2 separate regions of the Homo sapiens genome follow, and region 1 is linked to region 2. The links come from fine-mapping of genetic effects on gene expression. A gene starts in region 2. The other region holds a variant in brackets. All regions are shown on one strand. Distances are between the middles of the regions.

Region 1 (2,896 bases), 25 kb before region 2:
GGGTCACGTAGAACAAGTCTGGATCATGAAGTCTGTGAGGCTGGTGTACACTTAACTGAGAGTGTGTCTAGCTTTAAACCGGTATCTGCATTTAAAAAAAAAAAAAAAGGCAGAGTCGGGGGCCACTCTCAGAGAGCACTATTAGGTGCTCACCGGCAGAACCCAGACATTGCATTTTCAAAGCTTTTAAGCTTTTCAGCTGCACTCTGAGGAACCGGCTATTGATCTGTGTCCTTGGTGCACAGCCCTTGCACTTCTTTCTGCCCCCACGCCCTGCGGCCCCTCTCGGCTCTGAACAGGGGCCCTGCTCTCTGGGACTCCACATCCCTGCAAAATTTGTCTCCCCTTCCCTGGGTTCCTCCCCCGGGGCTGAGCTGAGGACAAGGGCCTGGCCTCCTCCTTGGAGAACCCCACAGCACCCTGCATTTCGGCGTGGTCCATGGGCTCTTCTCAGGGGCTCCTCACGTTGTGCAAAGGGGTAAGGGAGCAGGGCCAGCTGCAGATCTCCCTCCCGCTGTGACAAGGACATCCTAGTCGAAGAGCCCGTTTATCTTCGCTCTTAAGGCCAGGCTCTCTCAGGTCATTGTTGCCAAAGAAATGAATTGCAGCACAGCTCCGCAGGTCCCTGCACAACTGGGGCAAGGGCTGGCACTGGGCCAGCGGGAACCTGTTGGGGAGGCTGCAAGGTGCTTCTCTGCATCCAAGGCTGCCACACCCTGTGCACACTGTGGAGCTGGGTGGATGGGGTGTGCTCAGGAGGGGCTCTCGGCCCTCGGCTGGGAGTCAGAGGCGTGGTGGGTGGGGCGGGGAGGGGTGTCACAGCTGCAGGGCAGCCTTGATGTCTGCACTTGGCTTTTTAATTTGTAGTCACAGCCAACAAGTGTGGAAACCGCCTCAGGACCGGCTTGAGTGGAGCGGCTGCGGGAGTTACTTCATGACTGTGGTCTCACGCTGTGTTTCGCCACCCATCCCTGCCTGGCCTGGCTTCCTTCCTTCCTCCTGGGTACGTTGGCCCTTGGCTCTCTCCTCATTAACTGGCCCCTCGGACCCCGGCTGGCCAGCTGTCTGCAGCCTCCTGGGTGACACCTTCACCCCTGCCTCCTCGGGGGTCTGCTGCCGCCACATCAATCTCCCTAACACCCTGGGCATGCCACCCCTCTGGAGACCTCCCTAGTCTCTCTCGCAGGGCCCCCAACCTGCTCAGCCCAGGCCCACTGCCCTCTCCCTGCCCGGACACGTGCTCCCGTGGCCCGGCCGTGCCTGCCCACACACCTGCCCTCTCTGAGGTTCACATGTGGCATCCAGGGGCCCTTCCCCAACAGCTCTGCCTGGTGCAGCCTCCCCCTCAGCCTCCTCTTCCCCCCGAGCAGGGTTTGCAGAGGCCCAGAGGCTGCCGGGATGAGTAGATGTTGGGATCCTGCTTACTGGGCGTGTCTTATCCCCCAGAGCAATGGCCTTGGAGGTCAGGGACCCAGCATGGCCATGCTGGCTTGGGGTTTAGGAGCTGTCTCACCAGAGCCCCGCCTCAGCCCACAGCCCCGGGCCTGTTTCCTTGAAGGCTCCCCAGAGCCCCATGCCTGGTTTTCTGGCCAGA[G/A]CCCTTGGCAGTGACCCCTGCTCTCCGCCTGCAGCTCTGGGCGTCCTCTCAGCCCCAAGCCCTGATAGGTGCCCCCTGTCTCTGTGCCTGCAGCCTTCAGGAGTGGCCCACACATTGGCTTTTATCTCTGGGCTCTCTGTCACCTCCTCTCCCTCCTGCCACCCTCTGCTCACAGGCTGCGGGTGTGGGGCATCCAGGAGCTGGCCGGTGGAAAGAGGAGCAGGTGCCCTTACGCAGTGGGGAGCAGACACACTTGTGCTGCTTTTCCCTTGGGGCTTGGGGTGGCCACTGGGGCAGGACATGAGGACAGACCAGCCCTCGTCCCCCCAGTGCAGGGGGCAGATCTCACTGCCAGGTGAAACCCTGCTGACCATCCATGTGGACCCCTCAGCTTGGCTGGATGCAGGAGGTGGTTGCACAGTTGCAGGTGGGGCATGGAGGGAGTGGAGCAGCCCCTTACCCCAACACAGGCCCCATTCCTGCTTAACCGGATGTTCCGAGGAGAAGCACAGCCCAACAGGTGTGCACAGGAAGCTCCCATCAGTGCTGTCCTGGGAAAGGCCCATCCTGAATGAAGTGTGTTGCTCAGATCCGAAGAGCGCTGCATCTTCACAGGTCAGGGTGGAAACCTCCTGGTGCACGGCCCGGGAGGGGCACCCGTGGCAGGGCCAGCCCCTGTGAGGCTGCACAGATGAGCTCGAGCAGAGAGTCTGGGGCCGGCCACATCCCACGTCCGACCCTGAGCTGGGGCCCTGGGGGAGCCCCTGTGGCTTTCGTACCAGCCACGCCTGTATGTAGAGAGCTGAGTGTCTGCTGTGGAAGACCACGAGTCACATGGCAGACATGGGCACTCGGCCCAGGCGATGCTGACCCATCCATCAGCTCCTACAGGACCACAAGCTCCCGTTGTGGTGGCCAGAGACTCCCAATGGCCACAGACCCACTCAGGGCTCTCTCTGGGGTCTTCCGGAGAAAAGGAAAGCTCAATGAGCTCCTTAAACCTTTCACTTCAAGTTGTTGCTTTTAAACATTTTGCTTCGTGGCCTTTCTTGCTCCTTCTGTAAAAATCTACATTGTGCTACCATTTTTTTTTTTTTTTGGCAAGGTGTCACTCTGCCACCCAGGCTAGAGTGCAGTGCTGTGATCATGACTCACTGTAGCCTCAAACTCCTGGGCTCAAAGGATCCTCCAGCCTCAGCCTCCCAAGTAGCTGGGACTACAGGTATATCCCACAGCATCCAGCTAATTTTTTGAAAATTTTTTTGGTAGAGATGAGGTCTTACCATGTTGGCCAGGCTGGTC
Region 2 (2,896 bases):
TGGAGTGCAGTGGTGCGATCTCGGCTCACTGCAACCTCCGCCTTCTGAGTTCAAGTGATTCTCCTGCCTCAGTCTCCTGAATAGCTGGGACTACAGGCATGTGCCACCATGCCTAGCTAATTTTTTGTATTTTTAATAGACGGGGTTTCACCGTGTTAGCCAGGATGGTCTTGATCTCCTGACCTCAACACACATTTCTTTATCGAAATTCCAAATTCTCCAAAGCTCAGAAACATAAAGGTTTTTCAAAACTCAGTGGCAAAGCTGGACCTGAACGATGCGCCATCACTTACTGTCTTTATTTCTTCCAGTTCACCTGAATACATATGTTTTGCCCCGAAAATATAAATGGGTCTGATTATGAGGAGCAGCCCCAGGTTCCAAAGAGGTGCCACATAATGTATGATGTATACAAAAAAGCCTGAGTTCCAAACACATCTTGGATGAGAGGTTGGGACTGTGGGGGATCCCTACACTGGTTAGAGTTCTAGACCCAGAGCAGGGTTATGGTCAACGGCGCTCTGGCCACAGAATGCAGCAGAGCAAGGACTGTGGAACAAAGACGCGGCTTACATGAATTTTTCACTTACCGTGCTGGGTGCTGGTGATTCAGAGATGGAAAGGCCCTAGCGACACCCCCCTCCACCCAGGGAGCCCACGGGCCAGCAGAGGGACCAAGGGGCACAGGACGGGTGGGGAGCAGAGGCGGATTCCCTGGCTGTGGAGGTACTGTCTATACGGGGTGCAGGAGACATCTCCATACAAGGGGGCCCTCACCTGGGGAGGTGGTGACCGCAAGCCTGACAGCCCCAAAGCCTTCAGAGATGCCGCCTGGGGACACTTTGGGAAAGTCCAGGCGGAGGACACCTGGGAATGTGATAGTGACACAAATGACCGGAGAGACTTGCTCTCAGTCACTGAGTCTGGCTGACTCACTGAAGATTAGGGCCTGAACTTCCCCCTCTGTAAATGGGGTGCAGGCCCTGGCCCTGCCTTCACAGTGCCCCTCGGTCCCCTACAAGCCTTCTCCGCAGGGTGGGATCGGGTCTGCCTGGAGCATCCCCACAGCCTATGGGTCAGCAGAGAAGCAGGCGCAGAGCTGGGGTGAGACGGTCAGGGCCGGTCCTGCCAGACACCTCAGATCACTCCTCTTCACAAATAATCCCATTTTACAGCCCAGGAAGAGAGAGGCCGGACCACTGCCCAAAAGCCTGTGGCCTACAGCCTGCCAGGTGCGTCTGCTCGCAGAGCAGGTCTGCGCAGCACCGAGCGGTCAGCAGGGGCAATGCTGGGCACTGGCCAGCCGCGCCAGGACCATCCCTGCTGACCTCGGCGGGGTGGGGCGGAGCGTGCAGGGTCTGGCCCGGAAAGCCAGGGCAGGCTTTAGAGAAGGGCCACCGGACGGATGGTCCGAGGACCGGCATGGACCCGGGTCCCAGCGAGGGCGGGGGGAGCGTAAGGCTGGGCCTGGGCTGCGGCACCGGGGAGGTGGCGGGGAGGAGGCCGGCAGGAACAGCCGTGCAGGGCGGGGGCGGCGCGGGTCTGGTCGGGTGACCCCGGGCGCGGCCAGGGCTGTAGGAGGCGAGGGCGTCGCCCCGAGGCCGTGGTCTCGGGTCCATGGTGGGGGACCTGGGTCCCCGCCCCCCCGGGCCGCCCTGGGTCGCGCGTGGGCGCGGCGGGCGCCGATTGGCTGCCGGGCGCGCGGGCGGAGCGGGCGGCGGCGGCGGCGGCGCGGAGGGGCCGCTCACCCCGCAGCCCGGCCTCGGCCTCCGCCGCTTGTCGTCGCGCCCCGCCCGCGAGCCCGCCCCGCACGTCCCCCGCCGGCGGCCACCATGAGCACAGGCCTGCGGTACAAGAGCAAGCTGGCGACCCCAGGTGAGCCCAGCGCCTGCCCGCGTGCCCGCGCGCGCCTTTGTCCCCGCCGCCCGCGCGCCTCTCACCGTGTCTCTCCGTCTCTCCCCCGCCCGCCGGCCCGGACCCGCTCGGAACCGGACCCGGACTCGACCCCGACCCCGACCCCGCAGAGGACAAGCAGGTACGTGCGCAGCGCCGCTCCCCCGCCGGGAGACCCGGCCGGCTGTCACCCATTGTGACACTAGCGCCTTGGGCGCCCAGGCGCGACCCCGCCCCCGCCGGCCCTCACCCAGCCCTGTCGCGATCACCGATTGTCAGCCGGGCAGTGCCGCCGCGCCTGGGGCTTCAGAGGAGAGGAGTGGGGGCCCTGGTCCCCGGACCCGCACAGCAGGGACCCTGCGCCCCTCCCCAGGATGGGGGGATGGGCAGAGTGTCCCCCTCCCACAGGGCCAGTGCCAGCATCTCCTGCTGACCTGGCCTGTAGGCCATGAGCTGGGGGTCCTGGGTGAGGCCATGGTCGTGGCAGGCCACGCTGGGGGAGGGGAGTCAGGCTCCATCAGCCAGCACAGTCCCTGAACAGCCCTACAGCAGAGGGCCTGTGGTCACCACCCACCTCCCCTGCACCTTCATGCCCCTTTCCCTCCCCATACACAAATTTGAGTGTTCAGGTCTGCAACAGGGACTCTTCCCCAGATTGGGAACCCCCAGGGTCTGGTCTGAGTCATTCTGGGTGCCCAGATGGGTCCTGGGACCCTGTGGGTACAAATAGGCTTGTGGCTTCTCAAAAGGGTTGGCCCCACCCTCCAGGAAAGCAAGACTGGACAGGAGGCTGGTCTAGGCACCTGGGTGAAACCCAGCCGAGCTCAGGGTTAAACAATGCTGTGAGGCCCCTGGGGTGGGGCGGGGGCTGACAACCAGGTGGGCTGGGGGGGCTGGGGAAAGCCTGCTGGTGTCCTCTCTGGCTTGAGCTCAGCCATCTTTGGAGGAAAAAAGAAGAGCCCAATTCTGGCACCAGGGTGGCACTGGCAGCCCCCATCAGGGA

Alleles and levels. Positions count from the first base shown, and alleles are read on the strand shown. Sizes are in standard deviations (SD) of each study's normalised expression.
With allele A in place of G in region 1, the expression in unexposed skin of the gene that starts at base 1,747 in region 2 is lower (small effect, 0.34 SD a copy in GTEx).

The links. PIP is the estimated chance that this variant, and not a neighbour inherited with it, causes the effect. A credible set is the group of variants that fine-mapping cannot tell apart.
Region 1: its variant is the best candidate, but not a certain one, in a credible set for the expression of SEPTIN5 in unexposed skin (GTEx, PIP 0.89).

The regions. Positions count from the first base shown.
Region 1 is chr22:19,687,276-19,690,171 of GRCh38, forward strand. No RefSeq gene overlaps it. Among named protein-coding and RNA genes, the nearest start is that of SEPTIN5, 26 kb to the right of the region's middle. RefSeq lists an enhancer at 863-1,711. The variant G/A (reference allele first, on the strand shown) is at 1,595.
Region 2 is chr22:19,712,757-19,715,652 of GRCh38, forward strand. It overlaps SEPTIN5 (septin 5), which reads left to right and starts at 1,747. Exons shown (of 12, transcript NM_002688.6): 1 at 1,747-1,875; 2 at 2,025-2,035. The coding sequence starts at 1,833. It overlaps LOC124905079 (a long non-coding RNA gene), which reads right to left and starts at 2,039. Exons shown (of 2, transcript XR_007068003.1): 1 at 1,941-2,039.